Linked DNA regions of Homo sapiens: all the other regions are reported to be linked to region 1. Evidence: microRNA targets listed by miRTarBase, many of them from high-throughput screens and not tested one by one. Region 1 holds a microRNA gene; each other region holds the end of a gene's coding sequence.
Evidence for each region. The annotated mature microRNA hsa-miR-3941 reads UUACACACAACUGAGGAUCAUA and lies in region 1 at 1,820-1,841, opposite strand. An mRNA with a match to its seed (bases 2 to 7 or 8) in the 3' UTR can be bound and repressed. Matches are read on the target gene's strand: a 7mer-m8 pairs with bases 2 to 8, a 7mer-A1 pairs with bases 2 to 7 and ends in A, and an 8mer does both.

Region 1 (4,346 bases):
ACTTCATTCAAACAAAGTATAAGTTCCCTTCTCAAAGATCCCATACAAAAAGAAGACGTAGGATAGACATTTATACTACAGAATTGCATTCAATGTCTCCAATAAGCTATTTCAGGACTCAGATCACCCTACAATATTTTAAATAAGGATGCAACTCAAACAAGGCGAAGAGGGAATTTCAATTTCTGATTCTACCTTCAGGGAAGATAAAAACATCTTATGTGAAGTGATTTATGAGTCAATGTGAAATAGGTAAAGAAAATCTCAAGAGAAAGAAATACAGAGGGTTAAATATTGACTTTTACAGACAGAATTCTTTACACCACTTTCCTCACTGTAATGTTACTCTTTTTCCCCTTGTACAATACTTAATACCTATTTTAGTAGATAGGTACTTTGAAACTATGTAAATATCTCATTCCTCATCATATATACAGATATACATTCATTCACCAAAAAGTATTGTTTCTCTGAAAAGACTTGGCTTCTATTATACTTAATATAGTTCCTGATTTTATAAATCACTGTGTATGTGACCATTCTCCCATCTCTGCCACCACCCCTTCCCCATGTGGATGCCCTTCTCTCCCTACTCCACGTGGGGCTAACCCCCCAAGAGGACAGCCCCTTTAGAGGAAATTTATAGACTAGAGGATTCTGAGATCTTCAGATCTTTCAAGGTGGAATGCTGCTTTGAAGATAGGATCTTTTTACTTAAAAATGTATTTAAGAAAAATATCATTAACCAAAAGCATCACAACCAAATAAACTATATTTACCTCTAAAAACTAGACTTATTCTGAAACTACAGAACAGTACAAGAAATTATATATAATCACTACATTGCAACACTTTTCAAACATTCTTATAGCAACATTTATGACGTAACAACATACCAGTTCAGATTTGAAGTAGCCTATTGTGTTTTCATCCAATTGAAAATATCTTCTCTTCCAGTTTTTCATCTACCAGAGATGAACACAGACATAAGACTTGTGTTTCTAAGAATGTCAAATGTTAGTCACCACTTAATTACCCTGATATGAACCCACAATCAGACATGCCAAGCAGTGAAAAATCTCATTACTTCCCTTAGAGATGCGATAAATTAAACCTCATCCCTCTCTAGCTACCCAGGCTTTGAATTCCTAATTCAATTTCTGGTGCCTGGCTTTCATCTTTTATTGTATGATTTTATGTGTTTTTTTTTTTTTTTTTTGAGACAGAGTCTTGCTCTGTCACCCAGGCTGGAGTGCAATGGCGCGATCTCGGCTCACTGCCTCTGCCTTCTGGGTTCAAGCAATTCTCCTGCATCAGCCTCTCGAGTAGCTGGGATTACAGGCTCCCATCACTATGCCCAGCTAATTTTTGTATTTTTAGTAGAGACAGGGTTTCACCATGTTAGTCAGGCTGGTCTCAAACTCCTGACCTCAGGTGATCCGCCCACCTTGGCCTCCCAAAATGCTGGGATTACAGGCGTGAGCCACCATGCCTGGCCTATTTCATATTTTTAATGTTGAAACTTTTTTTTTTTTTAAAAGCACTTCCCCTTCCTCCTACTCCTCGCCCCCGCCAACCCCATGTAAAGAGCAAACACAGGAAATGTTATTAAACCACATCAAGTTTCTCCATCTGTAAAAACATATGAATTCTTCCACAAGTACTTTATACATAGTAGTAAAGCACTAAATATTTAATAAAGTAAACCTATTTTGTACAAATATTTTTTGTCAATAAAATAACAGTTTTTGCAGAAGCACTTAAATATCTCTGACTGGTATTTTGGACTTAAGAGTAAAACAAAAAGGAACCATCAGGCTATGATCCTCAGTTGTGTGTAAAATTAGGGCTTTCAATCTACACACAACTGAGCATCACAGCCTGATGAGAATTCTGACTCTACCTGCAGACATTGTACAGTAAGAAACCCCTGCCCTCACCATCATTTTCCTCAGCCTAAAGCAGGTCAAACAGGTGAAAGGACATTCCCCTGGCTGCCCTAAAAAAATTAAGAGTTGCCAAAAAGTGATGAGAAGTCAAACAGAACCACCAAAATAATTTTAAGTATTTCTTTACTCACAGACTTAAAAAACATTTTCAAACTTTAAAGTTAATTTTCTCATGAAATTCTAAAGATTTAGTTCACATAGAAAGAATGGCTTAGATACTAAGGTATGTTGCAACCTTAGAAATATTGGTAAATTTACTTGCTCTTGCAAAAAATTCATCATGGAACTGATTATATGGGAATACCTGGGCTAACCCATAACAGCTTTTACTAAGTACCAGGTGCTGTGCAAAGGGAAACACACCTTTCTTATTTACATCTCTTAAAAAACAAAAACAAAACAAAACAAAACCCTAGATGGTAGGTTTTATATGATATTCCTTAAGACAGAAACTGAGGGCCTGAGAGGTTAAGTAAGTAGCCCAAGGTCAGAGAGCTTACCACGGAGGTCAGGCCAATGCCTAAACAAGGAAGAGACCTCCTAGGCACCACTCCTTCTCCTGCCGCTGGCCTGCCATCTCCCCACAACAGCTCTCTTTCCCTGACCCACTCCTGAGTATGAGTAAAGATGAATAGAAACACTTTCTAAAACATTAAACTGTTAGGAAAGCTCATTTAAACTGAAAGTCAGTGGTAATGGGCATTAACTTTCCTGGCCCCCTGCAAACCAAGCAAATAACAGCATTGAATTATAAACAGAGAATATCCCCTATTTTATCTCCTGACTCTCCTCAGCATGCCGGTCTCTCACTTTGGGTCTTTCATAAAATAAAGCAAACAATTTCCATGTTAATTTGAGTTTGCTAGAACGTAATCCTTTTTCATTATTTCATGTATTTTGTTAAGCTACTCACCACTGCTCCTTGTTTTACACAATATCCAGCTTTGATAACCGCACTATCTTGAGGTGGTTTAGGAGTAAAGTAAGGAAGATGGCTTTGTGACCGTTTCAGATTATTTCTGTCAATACTTTCACCACATTCATTTACTTCTTCTTTCTAAAATGAAGCAAAATAAATAAATTATTTTCTTGCTTGTTTAGCATACTTTTATTTCATATTATCCCAGTAGAAAATCTTAAAATCCACCTTAGATTAGTCAGAAACAGATTTTTGAAGAGTTTTCTAATTAATCTGAGATACTTACTCTTAATTTTCCTGTCACTGATTAAAGCACAAATTTCCATTCCTCTTGTTTTGCACAAGTCCTGCCACCAGTGCTCTTTTTTGGGGAAGGAGTTAACTTTTTATTTTGAAATAATTATAAGGATTCACCAGAAGCTGCCCAAAAAAAGTACAACAGGTCCTATGTACCCTTTCACTAGTTTCCCCTCAAAGGGAAACGGCGTAACATTATCAAAAAACAAGAAATGGACATTGGCACAACCCACAAACTTTATTCGGATTCCACCAGTTTTACATACATTCATCTATGTGTGTCTATACAGTTCTATGCAGTTTTATCACATGTGTAGATCTGTGTAACTACTACCACATTTAAGACCCAGAATTGGTCATCACCCCAAGGCTCCTTTGTGAACTTTAGAGTTCCTACCCCTAAATCCCCTGGCAGCCACTAATCTGTTCTCCAAGACTATAATTTTGACATTTTGAAAATGTAATGTAAATGGAAGCATACAGAAGGTTATCTTTTGAGATTATCTTTTTTCACTCAGCATAATTCTCTAGAGATTCGTCCAGACTGTTCCTTGTATCTAGAGTTCATTCCTTTTTATTGCTATATTTCCATGGTATGGATGGATGACCAGTTGTTTAACTGTTCACCCATTAAAGGACATTTGAGTTGTTTCCCACTTTTAGCTATTAGGAAAAAAGCTGCTATCAACATTCATGCACAAGTTTTTATGTGAATGTAATTTTCCCTTTCTCTACGATAAACACCTAGTCCTGCAAATGCTGGGTTGTACAGTAATCACAAGCTTACTTTTATTATTAAAAAAAAAACAAAACATAAACACTAAACTGTTTTTCAGAGTGGCTAATTTTCATTCCCACCAGCAACACCTGAGAGATTATGTTTCTCCTCAACCTTGGCAGCATTTGTGTCGTCACTTTTATTTCAGCCATTCTGAGAGGTGTGCAGTGATCTTTTATTGTGCTCTTAATTTGTATTTTTTCCCTGCTAGCTAATGATGGTGAACATCTTTTCATGTGCTTACTTACCATCTGTTTATCTTTTATCTTTTGATGAAATATCTGTTCATGAATTTTCTAATTGGATTTCTTGGGCTTTTTACTGTTGGGTTCTGAGTTCTTTCTATGTTCTAGATAAAAGTCCTTTGTTGGACATGTGGTTTGCAAATATTTTCTCCCAGTTT
Region 2 (4,346 bases), not on the chromosome of region 1:
ACAATCTAAAAACATTGCCATCTATTAAAAATATTTGTCAGTCCTAGTAAATGAGTGACAGTTTTAGCAAAAATTTACCTGGGTAAAACATTCATATCCAATTCAAAGGCAAGAGTTTTCTAAGAGGCATACCTGGTTTCCTTGAGTTTCTGACTTAGCTGACACAGACCAAAGAATATTCTGAATGCTCAATCTACTTTTTCTATTTTAAGTCACATAAATATATTTAATAGAAAACTCTGATAACAAGCACTTTACTTTCTGACAAGATGTTAAGATTTTCTGTCCTGGTATATACCACTTGTTTCCAATTATGTCTAAAAACTCCTAGACTCAGACATCCATATCAGGTATGATACATCAATCTAGCAAGGACTAGGAGAGATAAAAAGTAGACAATGAGGAGGAAAATACTTGGGTGGAATGAAAACTAGCGGCTTTACTTTATACAGTTGTTCAAGATATTGTTACTTGAACTCCAGACTAAAATTATGGATAGAGTATTAGTCCAATTTGAAAATATTCCTGTTTAATACCACTGGGTTCTCAAACCATTAACAACCACTGGAACAACAGGAAACAGTTCCTTAATAATTTTTGCCTTTTAAAGTCCCAAATAAAGAAGTTCTCTCTGCCACGCATATCTTCTCAAGTAACTGAGATCAACGTTTGGTAGGTTTCATTCTGCAGTATTTTTCTTTATATAGTACATTTTGCAATATTTTTCTTTAGTATCTTTAGACATATTTAAAACTTGGAGATTCATACAGTCCCTGAGGATCCTAATTAACTACATGGAATTCAAAAATTCTTAAAAAATTTATTATCTTTATTTAAAAAAAAATTACACACACACACACATGCATACACACAGGATTGGAAATTTTTTTTTTTTTTTAGAATACTAACACCATCTTTTATTTTTCCAAATTCCTACAGTCTTATGCCACTTGACTCCTAGTTAACCAGGATATAAATGTATAATCTTTTCATATCATAGGTACCACTATCATTTCATCAATTTCCTGAAGTAAATTGAGTGAAATCATAAGCACACACTTAAGAGTCAGTATTTATTCTGATTAATATTTTACAAAATTTTGACATTTAATTTATGTAAGGAGGGCTAATTTATTAAACACTTTACAGGTTTTTCTTTCCACAGAATAACACGGTAAGTAGCAAAATAATACTTGGCACAGTTATAAATAAAGAAAATATAAAATAAAAACATCCATAGCTTAAGTACAATGATGCTGTTTTACGCCCATTAATATCAAATAAATTCCTGGAAACAACAAAAATATGAATGAAAAAAAACTCCAAGGAAGTAATTCATGTTCAGTGCTGAGAATTAAGTTCCTATTTGCTAAAAGTATCCAATTAAGTTGATAAGAACTATTCCCAAAGGTTCACCATCATACACAACTTTAGAACTGGGTTTATAGTTGGTTCCACACACAGGACCTACAAAATAATTAAACAGATGGTATACTGCTGCATAGCTGGCTCCTGACCATCTGACCATTTCTGAGTTATAGATTTCACAGGTACTACAAGATGGTTACTACAAAAGCATTCACATTGCTAGTATTTTCCATGTAATTACACATCTAGAGGTTTGTCTTTTTAACTGAATGACATCTCTTTTGCACTGAAAATATTGTACCACAAACAAAGAAGATGGTAACAACATTCTTAGCCAAACTCTGAAAAAACCACCATAGTCTTTAACTGTTGATAAAAATGTATTCGATAAAAATGCAACTGAGTCTTCATGTGAAGTGGCTCAAAATACAAAAAATTAAAACAAATTCTAGCATTTTATAAATAACTTTGAATTTAAAAATTATCTAAAATTTCCCCCAATTAGTAGTCAAAACTAGCTGACATTTGTAAAGTTAACCAATTTTTACATTCTATGACAAAATGGCACAATGCTATTGCCACCCCACACCCATCTCTTCCCTTTTCAAAAATAAAGTACATATGCCAATTTTCTAATATTAAAACACATACACTAAGGGTAATCTTTTTTTGATGTGTGACTTATGGTCAAATAAGCTACTATATAAAAATGGTACTTGGAAATACTGAACATCAACTATATACATTTCACTGCTCCTCTTACTAAGGCAAGGGGCGGGTATACCACTAGATTGCTTTAATACCTGTAATCTGCATTTTACAGGGAAGACTAGTTTTACCAAGCATCAGACATGCAGTGAACTTGCAGGGTATAATGCCTATTAACAGCAATTTTGAACATCACTAGAAGCTCATTAGTTATCTCCCTTTTCTTTTTGGTTGGACAAAATGAAATGAGCAGCTTTAAAAACACTAACACAGACACAAAGAGAAAACTATTTGATAAATTATTTATATACAGATACACATTCTTTACATTGGTCTAGGATCTGTCATCAGTCTGACCACCATTCCCCCACATCTCCCACCCCATTCCCTCTCACAGATTTCCCACAGGTTGCTCGAACCACAGTTTGCTACAGCACTTAAGATGAATAAACCAAATCTCACCCTGTAAACAATATTTATGGAAGCAGTGACTAGTAGTCCACCATGAAGGTATGAAAATGCTGTGACAAAAATTGATCAGTGCATCACATTTAACAAAAAGAAAATTTTTTCTAAAACTGTTTCAGAACTTACTCAATATTGGATAAACTGAAATACTCTTGGGGATGAAATTCTACTTTCTGATAGGTCATTTTATTGAAACCAGAATATACTGTCAGCTTTTCTTTTATTCACATGTGCTATGTACTTAGATCATGCTCCATCTTTAGTTAAATGCCATTATTTTGTCTACAATTATTTTGCAGCTGAGAATTTAAAAGGAAGTATATCCATGTATCACTATTACTGAGAATTTTGCATTATTTGTTCTGCCTTTTCTTGAAAATACCACCTTAACCCTTAAAAATGGAACTGTTTTTGAACATCAAATTAAATTCTAATTTATGCTTCACTGGATAGTATCTGCTAGTATACATTCTATGTGGTGTGTCATGCAATTAGCAGGGCTTTTAAATTTGAACAAAAAAACATGACTTACTATACTCATGCAAGTGCTTCATTATCAGACCGTAAAACCTCAGAGTAAGGTTACTACAAATTATTTCACTGAACTAGAAATATATCAGCATTGCAACAGCTGATAGAAACAAAACATTGTTAGCACATTTTATTGTGAACATTATTTTCTCCTGCCTTTGAAGACAACATCACAGTAGATCCCAATCACATGATTTTCATCACAGTATTTATGTGTACATTCTGAAATGTACATAATAACTAGTCAATCAACTTAAAACAATGCTCCTGGAATTAGATGCAATACTCGTACTAGACTGCATCATAACATTTAGCCAAATAACATAAATTTAGTTTTAGTTAAAACTGAACATTTCTGATCAGTACACCATGTCTGTCAATAGAATAAGTTTACCCTTTTTTTGTGAAAAATACTGTGAGAACAAAACCCAAAAGTTGAGTATGTTGTGAATTTCCACATTAAGAACCATTAAAATTATTTTTTATCATCTTTACTCTTCCCAGAAATGGCAGTGTGTTCTGTCCATGTTTACTTTTGTTAATAAAAGTGTTGAAAAAAAGACTGTAAAATTCACCATTAGCCCTACACATAGCATGCTCTTGTTCAAAGGATGTGGATTCGAGTGTGAGAAAGACACGGACAGACACAATTTTCAGGCACCACTCAGCAATATGCTTCATAGGATAAGATGTCGCTACACCAGCTGGTACCCAGATCCTGATATTTGGTCATATTCTATTGTATACTGCCTGGTCCAGTCCACGATAACAGGACGAAAGAGGCCACAGCATCGAAATTCAAAGAAGTCTATAATATTTCTTACACATCCATGGCTAAAAACAGCACCCCAAAAAGAAAACACGTCAGTCAGTACAAATGATTTAATACATGAATTCAATATAATTTTCGTGTTAAATATATTTTTTTCTAAACTTAAAAACTCAGGTTACTTGCAAGAAGGAACCAATTCATAACTCTATAAAATATATATGCCTTCATGTTTCTCCACTGCTCTGCCAACAATGATTTTTTCTTTTGCCAATTTAAAGACTTACACAATTATATTTTAAATTTATTCAAATGTGCATATACTTTCTGTGTTATATGCATTTTTATTTTTATTTTTAGAGATGAGGTCTTAACTATGTTGCCCGGCCTGGCCTCGAACTCTGGGCTCAAGCAATCCTCTCACCTCAGCCTCCCAAGTAGCTAGGACTACAGACATGCACCAACATGCCTGGCTCCATATGTAATTTTTGATAAAAACCTT
Region 3 (4,346 bases), not on the chromosome of region 1:
TTGGCTTACTTTCTTCACAAGGCCCTACAACACAATAATTGGATAATTGGGTGAATTGTTAACATGTCATGTTATGTATGTTCCTTTAATTCTAGTTTTCTAAAATATCTTTAATATTTTTAATTCTAGTTTTCTTTGTTATACTTATTTAAAATTTAATTTTATTATAATTTTAATTTGTTATACTTCTAATTTAGTTATACTTTTATTTTTCTTACCTTAAACTGATTTTTAGAGCTGTTGAACTGGTTTTCCCATGGGCTGCAATATCACTGAGTATTATAGTAAGTAGATAATTGTTTTAAAGTAAGCAAGTACCATCCCATGTCTGCCTAAAAATGATTCAAATAATAGAGGAACTCTTAGAATTAATGGGGATTTTCCTCTTCAGAAGCTGCTTGAGAGCCTAAGAATTTTCACCAAATTATGAACAAGACAGATTGTTTTATTTATTGTAATCATATGAGAAACTGAACTCTTATTTATTTCTTCTTTAGGTATTTACTTGGTGTTTGCCTTTGAGAAACAGCAGTGAGCACATAGGCAGTAGTCCCAGAGGGGCCGTGTTCTGTCCTGCACAAATTTGAACAACTCATCTCGATATATTTGATATTTCTCTGTCTGTTGATTTTAATTCTAAATGTGCAGGATGCTGCCAGAAACTCCAATGTAGAAATTCAACATTTGCTGTCTGTGACAGATGAACTTTTGCATGTGTATATAAGAATGAGTTGGGACCTCTGTCTTTAAAAATCTATTTTTAGGTAATGTTCTAAGAATTCCATTTGCCTCTATGATCTTAGCTCATAAAAATATAATATGACTTGATAAAGCAACTAAACTCTTTCCACAGTGTTCAGATTTGTCCTGTGTGTGTTTACAGTATTCAATTTATTGCAGTTATAGAATTGGTCAGAGAGCATTTTCATAGTGTGCTCATTTCTATGGTTTTGTTATATAGCATTTTTCAACATTTAATGGTCTGTACAGTTGAATGTAAGTGTTCAATATGTATTGCTGAAGTTATAAGTTTAAAACTCAATTTCAGATGCTCATAAAAGTTACTTAGCTAAAATTTTAGCAATTTATTGCATTTTGAAATAATCATTAACATGCTGCAATTCAGGAGCTGGTTAGAACATTTTAAGTGGCAGCATAGAATTTTGGAATTTTGGGGCTTTCTTTTCAGAAATTGCTACCATAGTAATTAATGTTTCCAGTTATCAAGATTGTGATTAGACACATTTACCTTTCTTCATTGAACAAATGGTGCCATAGTTATTTTTCTCAAAATTTAGTGAAAATCCCTCCCATGTAGACATGTTGCACATTTTTTCCAAATTTATACATGGAACTGCAGTAGGAATATTCTCACCATCTGATGCCATGTACCCACTTCAGAAATAAGCAATACTTGTTCCTCTGTTACAACCTCAGCACTTTGCACCGTAGGAGCCATTGTTAAAGTTGTCACTTGTGTAACTGACTGCTTTTCCAAAACTGGTACTTATGTGAACTGTTGTCCTTGCTTTACACCACCATTTGGAAAACTTACCAGTTTTTAGATGTAGATGTAGTGAAAAACTTCAAGAATGAAGCAGAGCAATTGAGTATTCTTTTTTAAATTATTAAGCCATGATTTACAAAAACATTACTTTCTGTAATTCACAATACTTGTTTTAAAAACATAGTGTCTTCATTAGTGTGCATCTATTAACTGTTCATGGTGTTAGAGTTGCAAACTTTTTAGCAAGAAAATATGGATTTCCTCATTTCAGTTCCTTCTGCAGCCTGTGAATCTCCACAAAGTGTTACCAGTTTACAAAAATAAGTCTTTTTGCCTTAAGTCATTTTGGAAATAAGTAATACTGCATCTGACTCTGGTGGCTGTATTAGCTAGGAAAGGTTTGTAAATGGTGTCAGTGAGGTGGGGAAAGGAAGTCTTCCTGTCACATATGCAGGTTCGTTTTCATTCTAGGGCAGTGCCAGGAAGTATATTGATAGCTTTGTAGGTACAGGAAAAACATCATCATTATTTCCTCTGTTCACATTTACTGGTCTTAATTAACAGGTAATAATAATACATGTACTTTTAGCCTGAAACCTCTTCCACGCCATGGGTAACTTGGGGGAGAGAAGAATCCTCCAAACGATGGAGTAGCCAGTGGTAATACAAAGCAGGGAGAACAGAAAGGTAGAGTTACTAAGGCCTTCAGTGAACAGAAAGGAGCAGAGAGCAAGATTAGATCTGAGAAGATGCTCTGGGGACTGAGCCCACTGTTGTTGGTGTCAGGGAGGCTTACTGGAGCCACACCTGCAGGCGCTGTGTTCAGGCACCACCTTCCTCCTTGAGCTTTGCCTGTCTCTTGCCTTATCAGTTCTTCCTCCACCACCCTACACCCCCCTCCCCCCGGCCCCAAGCCCCTGTGTCTCCTTGTTACAATTAAGTTTCTGGATATTGACTTAAGAACTGTTAGGAAGAGGACTAGAAAAGGCTTCCCCTGCCTATCCTCTCCGATCACCAAGGTGGAAGGGAGCTAGTAGGACTCTTCCTTGACACACCTTGTCGTCTAAATGTTCGGTATTCTATTCAGGACTTACGGTAACTATTATGAGGGAGGCATGGCTTTCCACCGTCGGGCCAGGAAGAGCACCTGTTGCTGCAAGCTCAGTGAAGTGGGGCACTCCCAGACCTGCCATGCAGTTTATCCTCTGAGAATGGAATTGGAAATGAAGACCTAACCAGCTATTGGTGGGAATGACGGAACTGGGGATTGCGATGATTGATCTGGGAACATGGCTGGATTGTGATTTAACCAAGAATGCTGATGTTGAATTCTTTGGGCCTAGAATATACTTGAGAAAGCACTAGTGGCTTGTGTTCAGGGAGAGGAGCTGGCAGTTTTTAACCACTTCTGTGGGAGCCGTGTTCTAACCTGTGGAAAGTATTGCAATTCTGTGAGAGTGACTCTGCAGAGTCACTGCACCATCAGGCTTGGCCCTGCTGTGCCTTCAGTACCCAGCCAGGTTCTCTGGGTCCAGGGTGACTCTCCAAAGAAATTGGCCTTCAGCTGGAGAAAACATTGGGTGGAGACTCTCACTTATGTTAATGCAATCTTGAAATGACTGAAAGGTAGATTGCCAGCACAGTGAGTTTCCCAGCCTGCTCCCCCATCCACACTTGGAAATTGAGGGAGCATGACCGCTCTCTGACTTCACATGTTAATAGAGGATCAGAGCAGAGTTGGGAGTATATTGGTCAGGATCATAGAAAAGAAGACAAAGCTTGCTCAGCCATGAGATGGCCAGGTATCCAGTTTTGTTAACTCTCTTTGGGAATTTCTTTTTCAGCCTGTTTTTTAGCTTAGTGCCATTATGTCATTTTGATTTGTATTCAAGTACTCTTCAAGTATCTTTGTAATGAAGGTTTGGCTACTTGTATAGGTCTGCCTGCAGGGTGAAAATGCCAGTGTGAATATTCTAGCTACCAAACATTGTTTTTTGTTGAAAAACTGACTTTCTGTTGTCTACCTCAGGCCTTGTGCATTTGGGTTATCTCAAGCCAGTCACCACAGAGGGTCTCTAGGGTCTGCAAAATAGAGGCCAAATCCAGGGACCAGGCCCTAATAATAGAAGTTGTACCAAAATGCCTGTGGTACTTGATGGCCTGTTGGTCAAATAGGAAGTACAAGTGTGTGATGTTAGAACCTCCCTAGTTGCTGCTATATCAAACACTGCACACTTGACAAGTGTTTTCATTCCCCGCCCTCTGACAGAACAACATTCCTAATTCTTTGAAGGCAACCAGTGCAAAGGCTACTACACTTGTGTAATGATATTTAGCAGATGCATACAGGACTGGATCCCAGGGCACTGTCAGTTCTTCCCTCCCTCTCGTGCTGCTCAGTTTGTCCTCTGCTCCCATGTAGGCCTAAAGTCACCCCACTCCTTAGTGCCTGCACCTCACCACGATATTGAGGAAGCACAGGACATCCAAGGGTACTCTCCAGTTTGGCTGTGGAGACTTGAGCAAGCCCTAAAGTCCCCTGCTCCCTGGACTTCTCCTGGGTTGTGCTTTTTTGGGGGCAACATACCTTGGACAAAGCTGAGCTGACAGCTAATGTTTATTAGCCTCCTACCTAAGTCAGTCACTTTGCTAAATTCTTCACCTGTGGTAACTCATTTTGATTGTTATAACATCTCAGCACCGTTATTCCCATTTTAATGATGAGGAAACTGAGTCATAGAGGATACAGACTTGCCCAAAGGAGAGCCAGGATTTTCACACCCCCTCCTCAAGCTGGGCCTGCCCTCCAAGTGCTTGTTATATACCTCCACGGGTGTCA
Region 4 (4,346 bases), not on the chromosome of region 1:
CTGAACAGGGCATACTGTGCCTAGGTTTTGTGGACGCCAGGGCCGGTTCCTTTTCTCCCCGCGGCATTGGGGCGACGCAGGGCCCCCGGCTTAGTGACCTTGGGGCGGCGCTCACCTCCAAAGGCCAGGGTGGTGGGCTGGGCAGAACTCACTGCCTCTTTGCCCCAGTTTTCCAGGGTCCCGCAGCTGCAATTCAGCAGCCACCGGCGCCTCCTGACCGTGGTCCCACCGTAGCGCCGCCTGCGGATACGGTTCCAGTGAACCGCCGATTGAGCGCAGTCTCAGCTCCCGCGCCTCCTCGCAGCCTGGCCCCGCGCCTCGGAGGTCCCGACAGCCGGCGCGAGCAATCTACACGGCTCTGATACAGACGCTTTTCTCCCCAGGGCCGGGAATCCTGCAACAGCGGCAGAAGCCGCCCGCGCCTCGGGCTTCCGGCGGCCCAGCTCTACTAGGGAAGCGTCGCGGCTGCTCTGAGGCAGGCAGCGCTTCGCTAGAACCACTCAGCTCGTCCCGCGCCGCCGCCGGCTGCCTGAACCAGGTTCCGCTGTCCCCTTTCCTAGCGGGACCCCGAAACACCCGGCGGCTTCCCGCTCCTGAGCGGGAGAGAATAGAGCTTGCTGCAACCCTCTGCTTGGAGGGATGGCCTCTGCGGTGCTTGGCTAGCAAAGGGAAGCTTCACTGTGTCTATTAGTACATCCCCATACACTCCACGCCTCAACAACTGTCAGCACTCACTCCCTCCCGGCCCCTCACAGGGCCCTTTGCACCCACACCTCAGGGACTCGGTGTCCCTCCACTCAGGTCACGTTACTCCATCCACTTCTCTCTCCTTCTCCCTCTGTCAACTCCAAATCCCCTCTAGTTCTCCCTCCCCTCCTACTTCTCTCACACTCACCAGCTACACGTACTAATTCAGATTTTGCACATGTTGGTGGAAAACATGTCAAGCCAATGTGCAGACCCTAAGGCTTTTCACACGCTGCTCACTTTCGCATCTCACGGTGCAGAAGGACCAATGGGCTCCAGGTTTACAAGCCTGACTCCGAGAAGCCTGTTGATTCTCTGATGTCCTTGGCCTGTGATTCGGGTGACTGGGCTGCCACCTGGGTGTTTTCATGATGGGACTGCCGCACAGACCACAGAGAAGCTCAGGTACTGAGCACGTTCCAGATACACTTTAACATGCACAGGCCACTCACACAGGCTTTATCTCTGTCTCGAAACTCTGCTGAGTTTGCTGCTCAGACCAACAAGGTGCAGCAGCAGACACCCACATAGCACCAGGTCTGAAGCCAGTGGGTATTAGTCTGCCTGGTTGGGATTAGCAAAGTCAGTTACTCACATATGTGCTTGGGAGAGAATAGGGGAGTGGAGAGAGAGAGAGAGATATTGAGGAAGAGGAAAGAGAAGCGACCTCCTACTCTGGGAAGAACTCACACATGAGAGCTGTTTCCTGTTGTTAAGTGTCTCACTGAGCTCCCCTCTTTCTCCCCCAGGAAGGGCTTGAGAGGCAGTAGACCAGAGCTCTGGGCTCCTCTTTACCTTGCTGATGTTGGGGTATGAGTCCTCCAACACCATTTTGTCCCAAGGAGTATGTGCCCCATCGTCAATCAGGCAGAATGCAGGGCAGTTGTCGGCCTTTTTCATGGTGGAGGCCAACTGGGAAAAAGGCAGAAGGGTCTGGGTCCTGGGCCAAGTGAGGCCCTCTTCCCTCCAAAGACCCGTGGGATGCTCTCAGAGGCGGATTCTAGGGTGGTGGGAGCTGCTGACAAGTTTCCTCTGATATCCCTCATGACATCTATGGCCCAAAGCCATTTTGTTCAGCTCTGAACAGTGAGTGCCTTGCCAGTAGGCCTCAGGCTTGCTGGGGAACATGATGTGTTCTTAAAAGTTGCCTTGTTGCCTTTCTCCACACCCAGACTGTAAGCGCTGATGGGCAGAGACTCTGCCCTCCACTTCTCACTCAGTGCTCCCCACCAGGATGGGCTTAATGCCTTTTAATAGAATTAGAAAATGGTTCTGCTGGACAGAATTGGGAAATGCCACTTTCCTTATAATGAAGTTATAATGAAGTTAGAATTTCCAAGAAAGGGACTGTAGCTGAGGAAAAGCGGTTTGATCATTGACAGCCAGCTCAGGATCTGAGAGTTCTTTGCCATTTGGGGTTATTATAGCTGCATGGCCATGGTGCTGAACCTTAGGCAAGGGCAAGGACACCTCCCTAGTTCCCAGTCATGGTGAGGACCTGTCTGAAACATTCAAACTAGACTTTACTGGAAACAGAGAAGTCTCTGCATTCAGGGCAGCTGGCTTGCAAGGTAAGGCCTGCAGTCTCCACCCGCACGCTAACCCATGAGGGGATGCCAGAGAGAGCCCTTCCCCCTTGGTCCTCATTCCTGGCTCAATTTTCTCCCACAAAGCGGGCACTTTCTAAAGATGATAGGCAACTGCCATGGAGGAAGGCAGTTTTAGATGCCTAGCTGGCACAAAGTCCAGAGGAAGGGAGGGAGAAGGGCTGAGTTTTGTATTACTGTTCTACCTTTGGAGATTTTCCTCATGCCAAGATAGGGTGTGTGTGTGTGTGTGTGTGTATGTGTGTGTGTATGTGTGCACTATAACTTTATGAAACACTTTTTTTTTTTTTGAGACAGGGTCTCACTCTGTTGCCCAAGCTGGAGTGCAGTGGTGCAATCTTGGCTTACCGCAGTCTCCACCTCCCAGGCTCAAGTGATCCTCCCATCTCAGCCTCAGCCTCCCAAGTAGCTGGGACTATGGGTGTGAGCCAACACACTCAGCTAATTTTTTTTTTTTTTTTTTGGTATTTTTGGTAGAGACAGGGTTTTACCATGTGGGCCCAACTGGTCTTGAGCTCCTGAGCTCAGGGTGATTTGCCTGCTTCAACTTCCCAAAGTGTTGGGATTACAGGTGTGAGCCACCATGCCCAGTCAGTTTTTTATTTTTTATTTAAACAGTTTTGGGGGAACAGGTGGTTTTTGCTTACATGGATAAGTTCTTTAATGGTAATTTCTGAGATTTTGGTGCACTTGTCACCCGAGCATTGTACACGGTACCCAGTGTGTAATCTTTTATCCCTCATCCCCCTCCTACGCTTCCCCCCCCGAGTCCCCATTATATAATTCTTTTTTTCTTCTTTTTGAGACAGAGTCTCACTCTGTTGCCCAGGCTGGAGTGCAGTGGCATGAACTTGGCTTACTGCAGCCTCCTGAGTTCAAGTGATTCTCCTGCCTGAACCTCCTGTGTAGCTGGGACTACAGGCATGCACCACCATGCCCAGCTAATTTTTGTATTTTTTGTAGAGATGGGGTTTCACCATGTTGGCCAGGCTAGTCTTGAACTCCTAACCTCAAGTGATCTGCCTATTTTGGCCTCCCAAAGTGTTGGGATTACAGGCGTGCGCCACTGCGCCTGGTCCATTATGTCATTCTTATGCCTTTGCATCTTCATAGCTTAGCTCCCACTTATAAATGAAAACACAGGATATTTGGTTTTCCATACTTGAGTTACTTCACTTAGTATAATGGTCTCCAGCTCCATCCAGGTTGCTGTGAATGCCATTATTTTGTTCCTTTTTATGGCTGAGTAGTATTCCATGGTGTATATATATCACATTTTCTTTATCCACTCATTGGTTGATGGGCATTTAGCCTTGTTCCATATTTTTGTATGCAGTATAACTTACAGATGGTAAACAATATACAGCTTGATGTATTCTGACATGTAATGCAGTATGTAACCACCACCTGGATCAAGATATGGAGCATTTCTGGCACTTCAGAAGGTTCCTTCATATCTTTTTCCAATCAATATTGCCTCAAAAGGGAAACCATATTTGGATTTCTATCACCATAAATAACCTTTGCCTGCCTTGAGCCTCGTATAAATGGAGCATATAGCATGTATGCCTTTATGTCTAGTTTTTTCTGTGCAACATATTTTTAATATTCACTGGTCTTGTTGCATGTGTCAGACATTTATTTCTTTTTATTGCTGTGTAATATTCTAGTATTTGCTTATCCATCCATATGTTGAGGGACATTTGTTTCCAGTTTTTGGATATCATAAATAAAGCTGCTGTGCACATTGTTGTACATGTCTTTTTGTGAAGGGTATTTTACTACTCTTGAGTGAACTGTAGGAGTAGGCATATATTTAGTTTCAATAGATTCAGTCAAACAGTTTCCAAAGTGATAAAACCAAATACAGTGATATACAGATAGACAGACATACTTTAACAGGGCCTTTCCCTTATAGATAGCATTCTCTAAAAACCACTATTTAGCTGCACTTGTTATTACTGTTGTTATAAATGGAAAAAACAGCTTTTT
Region 5 (4,346 bases), not on the chromosome of region 1:
ATCTTGTTGTCAACTCTGAAATAGCAAATAAATAGGAGATATTTTTACATCTAAAACCTCAGAAATCACTTTGACCCTGGAAATCTTCACTATGACCTCTAATTGCAAGTTCTTTTCTTTCAAGTCAGTTATCAAAATCAGTAGATTTTAAAAATGATGAGTTTGATTCTTAGTTCTTTGATACTTATTTTCTCTACTGGTAGTGGGTACAAAGTAAACTGGAATTAGACACATACATAATTGTATCAATTGGGACGCTTTGGGTTTTAAGCACCTATAAGTAACTAAGTCTCAGGACAAAGATTGGTCTCATTTCAAGGACTTGGATAAGATGACAGAGTGTGTATGCTGTTGCCAGTGCCTAGTGGCCAAGGCCAGATCTGGCAGTTCATGAAGAGGTGAAATCGGAAGAAGGGTCACTCCTCAAAGAATAGGGAGTATATTAGGCAAATAATACCTGTTCACTTATAGTATTGACATCAGGTAACTTTAAAAGATGAATTGCCTGCCGTTTTTAAAATAAGGTTCATTTTTATTCATATTAATTCATTTTTCAGAAGAGAAAATGAAGCATAGAGAAAGTAATTTGCCCAAGATCCCATGACTCATAAGTGGCAGACTTGTGATCTGAACCCCAATCTCTTCACTCCAGCCAACATTATGTACCGCAGCAAGAAACAATAGAATGGCTAACAGAAATACGATCGATCTGTATGTGTAAAAAGAAAAGCTCTTCCAGAACACTGCTGGTATAAAAGGCAAGTTGTTACATAGTATTAGAGTGTGACCTCCTTTCATGTTAAGAAACACACATACACACACACACACACACACACACACACACACACAAAAGCCCCCAACAAACCTGCACACATGTACTTCATATAAATACATCTATATAGGGCTTCATATCAAAATATTAACAGCTATCTTTGGAGAGGAGAGTGGGATGCTGGGGATGAAAAAGAATGTATTTTATACTCTATCATATATATGTAATCTGAATTATAATTTTAATATTATATAAATAAATAACTTGATTGGAGGAAAGAAGGAAAAGCAAAATGCCTAGATGCTAAAAATTATACATGAAAGTCAAAAGTTGGTTCTAGACCATTCCTGTATCTTCCTTGTGCTGTTATTTTAGGATATGATGAGTGAAAACTACTTGTCACAAATTTCTTTCCCCATTGACAGGATAGCACATGTTCTCCTAAAATGGTGTCGATAAGGCAACTTTTCAGAACATACATGTATTAATGGTTTATATACATAGCCCCCTAAATCCTATGTGACCTTTAAAACATTATTTTATTATAATTATAAACTACAAGTATACTAGAATTTAGAATATAATAAGCACTTGTTTTCAAACAGCAGTTTATAAAATACTACGAACACAATTGATGCCTCTTATAAATCTCAATTCAGTCTTTCTTGGTTCCCACAGGTAACCACCAGCAAATTTTTTTCCTACATATACAGCCATAATTTATAGTATCATTTTTTATATTTATACTTTATGTAACTAATTTCATAAAACACGACTTGTTCCACCACTCACTCTTGTCACTTGTTTTTGAGATGTATTCATGCTGACATATATAGCTCTAGCTTGTTCATTTGGACTGCTGTGTGGAAGTCTATCATATGAATATATGCATTACTAAAGCTGAGCACGGGTTAGGACCCCTTTCTGCTGTTTTACACAAGGCTGCCGTGAACATTTTTGCAGATGTCTCCTTATGCATGTGCATAAGTACTTATTTAAGGTAACATGGTAAGGAATCTTTAATTTTACTAGATATTGCAGAACTGGTAGTTATGCCAGTGTATTTTCCCACCAACAGTAGAGTTCCCACTGTTTGATGTTCCTGACAACACTTGCTATTTTGAAACTTCCGTTTTTGCTAATTTGATGTGGTACCTTTCCATGTTTTTAACTTGTATTTCCCTGATTATCAGTGAAGAGTATTTTTTTTCCATGTTTGTTGGCCTTTTGAATTTCCTCTTGTAAGAATAATGTGCTGATATTTCTATTAGGTAGACTTATCATGAGTTGTAGGAACTTTCATATCTTCATAAATTAAGCCTTTCTTATATATTAATATATTGAAAACATCTTACATGTCGCTTGTCTTTAAGTCTTCAATCCAACTCAAAATATATGAAGGTTTAAATTAGGGATCCAAATTTATATTTTTATAAGTAGATAATTATGACAACACAATTTTTTAAAAAAAATTCACTCCTTTCTCTACTTGCTTATAACAACATAACTTAAGTATCTATATATGAGGGTCTCTCCAACTGATTCAAGGAAAACAGCAGCAACATTTAGCATTTAAGATGGCCATGCCATGTATCAGGAACTATGCTAAACATTTTAAATGCTTAGACCATGCATTTTGGAGTCAGAATGCCAGGGCTTAAATGTACACTAGGGATCCCTGATAAATGGTAAATCTTACAAATTTCTTGTTTGTTCACTGGCTAATAGAAATGTATGCATCAGGTAAGGGAAATAAATATGCTGGTTGACACAAACTATATATTTTAAAAAGCACCCCAAATATACAACTTGCTTTTATTAAATTGAAAAAAAAATCCCCAAGAGGCAGATATCCCAGTAGTTTTAGTGAAAACAAATTTAATATCATCTTGTTTGAACAAAGCTTTCAGAATAAGTGAGCAATTAAATTCTTAAAGTAGGGACAGAACACCAACAGGCTCTAGACTCCGGAAGAGCTGTAAGCCGACAAATGGGCATTGTTTTGCTTAACAGTTTTAGCTTCAATGTAAATATATATTATTACTTAGAATATTAGCATCTGAACTATATAATGACTATTTTATCATTTTACTTGAATTAAAACCAGAATTTCTGGAACTTCCAAATAGTCTTTAAAGTTTTTCAATATAAACATAAACTAACCCCTATTCCTCTCTACATATCAAATGTGAAATAACTGTCACAATATATCAGCATTTTCACAGAAAGATGTTTAAGGCTTCTGGCACATAAAATGTGTAATTTCTGTGTGACAATGTCATAATTATATACAGAAAATATTTAAAATTCTTGTAGAATTTAAGTTCTAAAGATTAAAAAAACAAGAGTTCCATGTTAATAAAATATTAAAATACTATGAGCTTCCCATAAAATTGACAGTGATTTGTAATTACATAAAGAATACACAAGGCAAGTCTTTCACACTAAGTGATTCATCATTGAAAATAATTATTGAACTGAATATACTTATTTGGTATCACTAGTTTTCTAAATCATTCTTTCAGCCCAAAACAGGCTTTCATATAACTTATAAATATTTCCAATTGCTACACTGAGGCAGCAAATGTCATATCTATGTTTGTCCTAGTTGTATGTCATACAAATATAAAGTCTATGAATCTTATACTTTTGTCTAAGTCACCATTGTAGAGAATGTGCTGGTAAGTGAAATCAATACAAAGGAATTATTTTTCATTTGTAAAAAATGAAAATCATTTACACCTTGTTTTAAAGTTCTAAAGCAGCATATTCAACTCTTAAGGCAAAAAAAAGATCAAAAAATTACTATAAATTATAAATTCTGGTAACTTTTCTTCTGGCATTAAAAGCCACAACACAAATTCTAATATTTTAATAGATAATATATTAGTGTACATCTGAATATACATTTGCCAAAATGTTCCATTAGTATGAAGTTGGTCTGAAGTGGAAGTGAAGTGCAGTGGTGTGGCAGGGTAACATTTAATGGCCGTCCTGGGCATCAGGGGACATGGAATGGCTGAGTCTTGACCTTCCATTCACAGATATTGTATTTGATGGAATGGTAACCTAAGAGAAAGAAACACACTTTGCACCCATCAATTTAAAATGGGATAGCTGTCTAATTTTCAATTTTCAACAGTTACCACATTTTAACTTCTGCTTAATTGTAAATGATAAGTATCTATTATTCAATAAATTATAATCAAGAATAAATGTTCATTCTACCATAAAATTTAAAAAGAGAGAGTCGTTATTTTCACAACAAATAAGATAAATAATCCATTAACACATCTTAATCTGTACAGAATTACCAAATCAACACAAAGGACAAGAGCACAAACAGACTGCAAACCAAGCTGTTAAAGAGCATTTTTAGCTAGATTAATTCTGTAATTCTGGCTCCCCAAAACTGCCTCTGAGAATGTAGAAAGATAAAGTGAATTCCACAAAGCAATGAATTTTACAAGTTTTGTACTGATGGTATAAATTAACGTGAAATCCCCCTCCCAATGGCCCCCTATTTATTCAAAACAAAAAAACTAGCCCTTGGTTTTAAAAATGCTTTCATATA
Region 6 (4,346 bases), not on the chromosome of region 1:
TACTAAAAATACCAAAATTAGTGAGGCGCGGTGGTGGGCACCTGTAATCTCAGCTACTCAGGAGGCTGAGGTGGGAGAATTGCTTGAACCTGGGTGGCAGAGGTTTCAGTGAGCCGAGATCACATCATTGCACTCCAGCCTGGGTGACAAGAATGAAACTCCATCTCAAAAAAAAAAAAAAAGAGAGAGACAGAATGTCTCTTAATATCTTTTTGTTGTAATAATTTCTTTCTTTTTTTTTTTTTGTTTTTGTTTTTGTGATGAAGTCTCGCTTTGTCACCAGGCTAGAGTGCAGTGGCATAATCTTGGCTCACCACAACTTCCGTCTCCCAGGTTCAAACGATTCTCCTGCCTCAGCCTCCTGAGTAGCTGGGATTATAGGCACATGCTACCATACCCAGCTAATTTTTGTATTTTTAGTAGGGACGGGGTTTCACCATGTCAGCCAGGATGGTCTCGATCTTCTGACCTCGTGATCTGCCTGCCTCAGCCTCCCAAAGTGCTGGGATTACAGGCATAAGCCACCGCACCCGGCTTGTTATGATAATTTCTAAAATGTTTTTTCATTTTAGGGTGCAGACATGAATGGATTACCAACAAAAGGACCAACAGAAATCTGTGATAAAAAGAAAGACTAAAGAAATTTTCCTAAAGGACCCCATCATTTAAAAAATGGACCTGATAATATGAAGCATCTTCCTTGTAATTGTCTCTGACCTTTTTATCTGAGACCGGAATTCAGGATAGGAGTCTAGATATTTACCTGATACTAATCAGGAAATATATGATATCCGTATTTAAAATGTAGTTAGTTATATTTAATGACCTCATTCCTAAGTTCCTTTTTCGTTAATGTAGCTTTCATTTCTGTTATTGCTGTTTGAATAATATGATTAAATAGAAGGTTTGTGCCAGTAGACATTATGTTACTAAATCAGCACTTTAAAATCTTTGGTTCTCTAATTCATATGAATTTGCTGTTTGCTCTAATTTCTTTGGGCTCTTCTAATTTGAGTGGAGTACAATTTTGTTGTGAAACAGTCCAGTGAAACTGTGCAGGGAAATGAAGGTAGAATTTTGGGAGGTAATAATGATGTGAAACATAAAGATTTAATAATTACTGTCCAACACAGTGGAGCAGCTTGTCCACAAATATAGTAATTACTATTTATTGCTCTAAGGAAGATTAAAAAAAGATAGGGAAAAGGGGGAAACTTCTTTGAAAAATGAAACATCTGTTACATTAATGTCTAATTATAAAATTTTAATCCTTACTGCATTTCTTCTGTTCCTACAAATGTATTAAACATTCAGTTTAACTGGTAGTTCATTTTCTTTTAAAGTCTATTGAAATATTCAAAAGGGAAATTTTTCACCACGTCAGAAGGCAGAATTTGGATGTTGTGATGGCATCTGTGTAGTGGTGGGACAACAATTACTATTGTTGCGTAACAAGACACTCCAAAATTTAGTGGTTTTCAGCAGCAGTGACTCGACTGGGCAGTTCTTTGCTGTTCTGGGCTCACTCATATGGCTGGCTGGGCCTGGGTCTGGACCTGGGCCGCTATGTGATTTTTATCTTGGGCTTTGAAAATTCAGTGTAGGGACCTATAAATATTCAAAGATGATGAGATGCATCCTTATATATTTTTTGTATTCACTCTGAAGCTGGGAAAGATTAAAAGGAACTCCTGCCCTTGGGTCCCTAATGAAGTCTGGGTCCTAACTCAGGCTCTATTAAGTTCTGTGGCTGGTCAAGTCACTGATTTACCTTGGGCTTTATTTGATATAAATCATGTAAATCAGCAGGTCTCAGCTTTTCTGTCCAAAGCCACCTGAGGGATAAGATAAATTCTCATTAGCAAATAAACTTTTTTAAGGTATAAATACTATTATAAAAATAACAGATATTTACAGTACAACAATGCAAGAGGATCCTAAATGAAAAGCGAATGTTTTTTCTCAACTCTCATTCCCTTATTCCAGCTCCACAGAGGTAACCAATTGTTTTTTTGTTGTTGTTGTTGTATGGTTTGTTTTTGTTAGACAGTAGTCTTTTCCTGAACAGTGCTGCTCCTTGTGGAGCAAGGCTAATTCATAGGCAGTGCATCCAGAGTCCGCCCCAGTTGATTTTGTGTGTAACCTTCTAGCAACTTTTTGAAAATTAATTTGTTCTTAAATATGCACATCATTTTTATTTATTTATGTTTTTGAGACAGGGTCTCACTCTGTCACTCAAGCTGGAGTGCAGCAGCATGATCACGGCTCTCTATGGCCTCGACCTGCAGTCCTGAAGTGATCCTCTCACCTTAGCCTCTCAAGTAGCTGGGACTACAGGTGCACACCACCATGCCCAGCTAATGTTTTTTGTAATTTTTTTTATAGAGACAGGGTTTCGTCATGTTGCCTGGGCTGATCTCGATCTCCTGGGCTCAAGCGATCCTCCACTTTGGCTTCCCAAAGTGCTGGGATTACAGGCATGAGCTACTACTGCACCTGGCCCACACATCATCTTTTAAAAATTAAGTAATATTGCAACGTTTCTAATTGTCCCTACTTCTTTGCTCCTCAAAGGTTTTACCTACTGAGCTGTGGGCTTTTTAAATTTATCTCCATATTTATAAATAAATTATAAAAATATAAAAATATAAACATTTTATTTTTTGAGACAGGGTCTCACTGTCACCCAGGTGCTGGAGTGCAGCGGCATCATCATAGCTCACTACAGCCTCCAACTCCTGGGCTCAAGTGATCCTCCCACCTCAGCCTCCTGAATTGCTAGGACTACAGGTGTGTGCCACCACGCCTGGCTAATTTTTTGTAGAGACGGGGTCTTGCTCTGTTGCCCAAGCGAGTCTCAAACTCCTGGCCTCAAAGTGATCCTCTTGCCTCAGCCTCCCAAAGTGTCGGGATTACAGGCATGAGCCACTGCCTGGCTATACTGTTATATTTTGAGCCATCAACTTCAGACATTGTTTCCCATAATGGTTGAGATGCCGCTATCTTACACTGCCTCTGCTCCTCCCACACATCCTCCCAAGTGCTTTTGTAAATTTTGCTTACATCATCAGTGTTCATAGCATGAGTGTGCCAGGTGTCTTTCATTTGCCCCTCCCAAGTCTCTGCTCCCCTCATCCTGCTTTCAGCCCAAGGAAGCTGTATAGACATCAACAGACTTCCCATGTCTCTGGGTTCTGCTGGGTTTGGCCAATAGCGATCCATAGCAGGAGATGGCTGGAGGGAGGAGAATGAAGGCAGAGTGTTTATTCCCTTGGCCCTCTCTCTGCAAGGTCACCTCAGGCCAACTGTTCCTCAGCCAGAAGTCACTGTGCCTCAAGGAACACTCCAGGCAGCCAACTCCACCTGACTTCTTTTATTTTTCCTAACCTGTCCTTCACCCTGCCCTTTTGGGCCCAGGGGTGGTGGTATTTCTGTTACTGGCTCTGGGCTACTGCTTCCTCTCAAGAGTGCTATCTGGCTTGCTGGGACACTGCCTGGGAGAATACTATTGCTCACTGCACAGGTTAATGCACTGTGATTGCGTCCCTTTTAATATACAGGTGGTGTCTTCCTGGAGTGACCAGTTTACCTTCTCCCCATACACCTCTCCTGCCTAGTTGTTGCCTAGACCTGGTGCACACTGCAGTCCTCGGGACTTTCTGTTGCCACCCTCCTGTATTGGACGTCTTGTTTCTGGATTTCCTATCCTCTTCCTTCTTGGTTTATCCCTCATTTTTTCTGTAGCACAGCAGTTTTCTAATTCAATACTTTTAGGAGGTTGAGTATGGATAATTTTGGAAAGTGTCCCCGGGATGATTCCAATTTATTTAAGCCTGTTTTCCAGAGAGCTGCGGGTCTCCTAAGGCCTTTCTCATTTCTAACAAGTCTCCCTCTCTAGAACACTGGTTCCCAGTCGTTGTTTTCATACTAGCAACATTTTAAAAGCAGGATAGGGGTGGCTAGTATGCAATTGCCAACTTTTGATTTTTCCAAGCAGGAGTATATCAAAAAGCTACAATTTATTACCAGTATTTCGTAAAAGACAGTTTGACACCAGAAGAGTGAAAAAGAACATGGGAATAGTGGACAAAAATAGCCATCAGTTTGAATAAGCGTATGAAAAGTGTTAATTTTATGAAAAATTCACTATTTTGTTCATATTTTTCTTATTTTGGAGGCTAATTGTTAAAAGCTTTTATCAGTTATCCATGGGCTGGAGTTGGTAGCCACTGTTTGATACCACACAAATGTTTCTTTGCCCTAAAATATCAACATCTGTCTGTGTAAAGGTCAGGGCTGCCTTTTTAGTAAGAGCTACCCTTTGTTAAACACATTGTACCTGCACT
Region 7 (4,310 bases), not on the chromosome of region 1:
AATATCCTTGGTGATGGGAAACCTCAGGAGGGTTTTGAGCAGAGAAATGAGATTTTCAAAGGATCACTCTGGATGCTGCTGGGAAGAGACCAAAGGATGCAATAATGGAAGCTGAGGGAGGGTCTGGAGGTAGCTGCACGAATGCAGGTGAGAGGCAATGCAGGCTTGAACAAGGGTGGTCGCAGTGGAGGGGCAGGAGGTGGTTGGCTCCTGGAGAGAATTTGAAGGTAGTTCCCACAGTCTTTCCTGATGCACCAGATGGGAGAGGAGTCGGAATGGCTCCAGGGCTTCCCACTTGAGCTGCAGGAAGATGGAGTGGCCATTACCTGAGACGGGAATGGCTGCAGATGGGCTGGATGTGGGGCAGTTAACCAGAAGGTCAGTGTTGGATTGTTCACTATGGGAAATCAGGTAGGCAGTGGATTGAAGAGCAAGAAAGAGTTCTAGGCTGGAGATAAATGGAAACATCATCAACATATTTAAAGCCATGAGACAAGGTGGGCCCCTCGGAGGACTGGGTATAACCAGGGAAGAAAGGGGGCCCCACGCAGAGCCCAGGATCCTCCAGCACGACACTGTCAGAGCAAAGAGAAGGAGCAAGCAGGGGAGATGGAAAAGGCGAGCAGCAAGGAGGAGGGAGACCAAGAGCACCCGGTGTCCTGGAAGCTGGTGATGAGGACTCGCCACGTCAAGCAGGAGGAGAACAAGAACTGCCCACAGGACCCAGCCACAGGGGGTGGTGGGTGCCCTGAGAAGGGCCATGTGGGTGGAGTGGGGGTGCAGAAGTCTGATGAGACGGCATTTGGGAAAGAAGGGAAGGATTAGGACGAGGCAACAGACAAGTAAAACTCTCGTGCGGGGTTCCACCAGAAACGCAACAGGATGGGGCAGCGGGACGGGGAAGGGGGTCAGGGAAGGGGTCGGGGAAGGTGGTGGCCATTTCTGGTCAGGTGGAAAATGGCAGCGTGTCTGTGTGCTAATGGGGTGATCCAGCAGAGGGGACAGCAGGTGGTAGGACGAGAGTGAGGCCACATCAGGAGCTGTGGAAGAAGAGCTGGAGTCAGTCCAATACCAGGGGTTCTGGCACCACGGGGGCCAAGTGGCTTCTGCCACAGTCACAGTAGAAGGCAGAGTACGGAGGTTTGGGGGCTGGGTGTAGGCGTGTATGGTTGGGGGAGTCTGAGGAGGCACCCCAGAGAGGCAGTGGGAGCAGCCAATGCAATGTGCTCCCACAGCTCCGTCAGCAGGTGGCTGGGGAGGCCACAGGGCAGCTTAGGGTCACCCCGTTTCCACCACTTTTCACCTATGTAACCTTGAATGAGTTGTTCACCCTCTCTCTCTCTGCCTCAGTTTCCTAATCTGTAAACCTGAGCAACTGCAGGTCTCTGCCCCCGGAAAACTCATTGAGAGCATGTAGATGAGGCAATACCTACACAGCCCCTAGCTCAGCACCTGCCCATCGGAATCCTTCCTCTCTGGGTGCCTGCGGTGAAGCCCCGGCCCGGCCAACCTGGACCTCTCCATTCCCACTCTGGAGCTAGCGCTGGGTGTTCCTGGGGAAGCACTGCTTGGCCTCCTCACTCATGCTTTCACATTGTTTCTCACTCTCACATCCAGACAAGACAGCACCAGGAAACCCACGCTGAGCTGGAACCCTCCTTCTGCAACAAACAAGCTGGGAAGGTCCTGGGCAAGTTGTTACGTCTCTCTGAGCCTCGTTTGCATCCCACATAAAAGAGGAGGCAGGATTGAATGAGCTCTAAGGTTCCTTCAAGTTCTAGATTCATGAAATAATGTTTTTTCCTCAAGAAAAAGAATTATTCATTGTATAAAGAAATACACACCTGTAATCCCAACTACCCACTGGCTGAGGCAGGAGGCTCGTTTGAGGCTCGTTGAGTTCAAGGCTGCAGCGAGATCAGGCCACTACGCTCCAGCTTGGGTGACAGGGTGAGACCCTGTCAGAAAAAAAGAAAAGAAAAGAAGAGGGAAGGGGATGGGAGGGGAGGGGAGGGGAGGGGAAACAATGGGTCTCAAAGAAAATCCTTTAAGAACACACAGAAGCAGTAGGGAGAGCCCACGCCTGTCCTCATTTGTCCCTGGAGCTGTGGGCTGTGAGCTGATGCTGTGAAGGCCAGACCCAAAGCCAGTCACACAGAGGCAGCAGCTGGACCGGCCTCGCCGACTGAGACCAGTGGCCACACAGACACACACCTGACAAGGTAGACCACGAAACACAGACGCAGGCCTACTGCCAAACAGACGACTTCTCCCTCAAAGCACAGTCATCTTCAGAATGAGAGGCGGCCCATCCTATGGAACCGAGAGGCGTGGCTCTTAAATTTGGGCTTCAAAAGACAAGCTCAGTCCCTGATTTTTTCCACCTGAGAAGGAGGCTTTTCTGAACATGACCCAGTGCGTTCAGAGCAGCCAGGATGAGGAAACACATCTACAAAGAAGCAGCTTAATCCAAACACAAGAAATGGTATGCAAAATAGGATATCAGACGTACTTTTGCAATTGAACATGGTCAAAACCATTTTGCAGCAAGTAACTTTTCCTGAGTTCAAGTAAGAGTTTAGTCCAACATTTATATGTGACACAGCCATGTGAGGCCTCTTCTCTGAGTACAAAGTAAAGTCTGGTAAAGTAAAAAATTAAAAGAAAAATCATTTCTATAATTAGGAGCAAGATTACTTTGCATGTCACGTGACCATGGCTGAATGGGCAAAACTAACGAAGTACCTTGGTTTTATACAACCCTGCAACACAGGCTCGCACAAACCTCTGGGTAGGAGGCAGCGGAGCAAACTGAAGGCTAAACAGCAAACCACAAAGTTCAGTTGTTCCTCGGCCAAATGAGACATTCAATGAAGATGAGCTTGGCTCAGGCTTGGGAAGTGGACGCAGGACCACCCTGCTTCACCAGGGCCCACTTTAGGGCTCTGAGCCCGAGGGGTCCTTGAGAGCATCCTGACTTGACTCCAACTGAATTCCCAGAAAGCTCCCAGAATCCCACATGAACCCCATCTGAGTTCAACTGTCCTTCAGTTTGAACTGAGAGCCCTAAAGTGCTCCTGGGGCAGTGGCTGGTCCCCATTGATCAAAAACAAGGGACAGTTGGGGTGATGAAATGAGAGAGCAGCAGATGGCTCAGAAGGGATGTCCTGCTCGCTAGGCAGGTCAGCAGTGTGGGCAGTCTGTACAGCAGGTCAGAATGCAGTGGTTTCTGAGCCTAATTTATACATTTATAAGAACTCTGTCCAGAGCTGGGTGTTCCTCAGCATGTGAGCTGCATCCACTGCGGGGACATTTCCTCGGATGAAACTTGGGTTGTGTTGAGTACCGAGCCGATAACATGGACTCAATCCCAGCTACATCCAGCCCTGTGAATGAAGGAGCTGGGGTGAATTTGGTCATCCCAGGCTTAGCTCCAAAAAGCACAAGGACTGGGAGCTGAGGTGGAGGGGACTCGACAGGGATGGAAGGATGCCGGCTCCGAGACCTCATCATCAGTGTCCCCTCCTAAGGGAGGCAGCACGTGGGAGTGGTTCAAGTCAGGGGCTGCCCACCAGATTCTGACAGTGCTCGATTTTCATTCCCGCTCCTATGCCTACTGGCTGTGAGCCTTGGGACAAGTTTCTGTACCTCTCGCAGCTGCTGTGTCCTTGCCTGTAAAATTAGGATGGTAACACCCATCATGTCATAGGATACTGACCCCTGAAATGCAAAAATCCAGGTGTATGTCAAACACTTAGTATGAAGAGTGTGCGTGCCCAAGAGACGGGCCTATTATTGCCTGGGGCACCAAGTGGGAACTAATCAGTGACTTCATGAACACCGACATTCTGGCGTGGATTTCAGCACTGAAGAACAGCATCCTCTGTCCCGCCCCCTCTTCCAAAATCTAGCAAAAACTATCCCCACGGGTTATCTGAAACTTGTCCGGATGTGCCTCTGGGCTCCCCTCAGACAGGCGGACAATCTTCCCCCCGGGAATTCTCTAGAGCCTGCCAGTAGTCCAAGAGAGTCCGAGGCTTGATGAAGTGGCAGGCCACGATCCTCCTGAAGAGGCATACGGAGAAGCGTAAGCCCCCTGGAAAAAAGGTCGGCTGGGAGTGGAGCTCCTCCAATCTGATGTTCAGCCTTTCGAGGCAGAGCCCCACAAACACGTCTTCCAGTTTAATGTATGGGACGCTCTTGGAGACATTGTACACCTGACTCGCCACGTCGCCAGAAAACACGTAGCCGGTGCCGGAGCAGAATGGTGGGTACCTGTCCCACGGATATTCAGATTTACTGACAAACCA

Region 2: the mRNA of ZDHHC17 is a reported target of hsa-miR-3941. Seed matches in the 3' UTR shown: 7mer-A1 at 1,606-1,612.
Region 3: the mRNA of RNMT is a reported target of hsa-miR-3941. Seed matches in the 3' UTR shown: 7mer-A1 at 1,476-1,482 and 7mer-A1 at 3,827-3,833.
Region 4: the mRNA of FOXL2NB is a reported target of hsa-miR-3941. Seed matches in the 3' UTR shown: 7mer-m8 at 2,586-2,592, 7mer-m8 at 2,598-2,604, 8mer at 3,075-3,082 and 7mer-A1 at 4,010-4,016.
Region 5: the mRNA of COBLL1 is a reported target of hsa-miR-3941. Seed matches in the 3' UTR shown: 7mer-A1 at 1,705-1,711 and 7mer-m8 at 814-820.
Region 6: miRTarBase lists C18orf32 as a target of hsa-miR-3941. Seed matches in the 3' UTR shown: 8mer at 2,135-2,142 and 7mer-A1 at 4,281-4,287.
Region 7: the mRNA of B3GALT5 is a reported target of hsa-miR-3941. Seed matches in the 3' UTR shown: 7mer-m8 at 1,838-1,844.

What each region holds. Positions count from the first base shown.
Region 1 is chr10:122,414,519-122,418,864 of GRCh38, reverse strand. MIR3941 (microRNA 3941) reads right to left here and starts at 1,900; the gene lies at 1,798-1,900. PLEKHA1 (pleckstrin homology domain containing A1) reads right to left here. Exons shown (of 12, transcript NM_001001974.4): 7 at 2,863-3,006; 8 at 897-965.
Region 2 is chr12:76,850,410-76,854,755 of GRCh38, reverse strand. It overlaps ZDHHC17 (zDHHC palmitoyltransferase 17), which reads right to left. Exons shown (of 17, transcript NM_015336.4): 17 at 1,060-3,909. The coding sequence ends at 3,771. Among named protein-coding and RNA genes, the nearest start is that of CSRP2, 26 kb to the left of the region's middle.
Region 3 is chr18:13,759,445-13,763,790 of GRCh38, forward strand. It overlaps RNMT (RNA guanine-7 methyltransferase), which reads left to right. Exons shown (of 12, transcript NM_003799.3): 12 at 498-4,346. The coding sequence ends at 535. Among named protein-coding and RNA genes, the nearest start is that of RNMT, 35 kb to the left of the region's middle.
Region 4 is chr3:138,949,882-138,954,227 of GRCh38, forward strand. It overlaps FOXL2NB (FOXL2 neighbor), which reads left to right. Exons shown (of 3, transcript NM_001040061.3): 3 at 384-4,109. The coding sequence ends at 691. Among named protein-coding and RNA genes, the nearest start is that of FOXL2NB, 4.8 kb to the left of the region's middle.
Region 5 is chr2:164,682,192-164,686,537 of GRCh38, forward strand. It overlaps COBLL1 (cordon-bleu WH2 repeat protein like 1), which reads right to left. Exons shown (of 14, transcript NM_001365672.2): 14 at 1-3,841. The coding sequence ends at 3,755. Among named protein-coding and RNA genes, the nearest start is that of SNORA70F, 3.4 kb to the right of the region's middle.
Region 6 is chr18:49,478,637-49,482,982 of GRCh38, reverse strand. C18orf32 (chromosome 18 open reading frame 32) reads left to right here. Exons shown (of 3, transcript NM_001035005.4): 3 at 573-4,346. The coding sequence ends at 638. It overlaps RPL17-C18orf32 (RPL17-C18orf32 readthrough), which reads left to right. Exons shown (of 7, transcript NM_001199356.2): 7 at 573-1,805. Among named protein-coding and RNA genes, the nearest start is that of C18orf32, 6.4 kb to the left of the region's middle.
Region 7 is chr21:39,661,151-39,665,460 of GRCh38, reverse strand. It overlaps B3GALT5 (beta-1,3-galactosyltransferase 5), which reads right to left. Exons shown (of 4, transcript NM_001356336.2): 4 at 1-4,310. The coding sequence ends at 3,969. Among named protein-coding and RNA genes, the nearest start is that of B3GALT5, 50 kb to the right of the region's middle.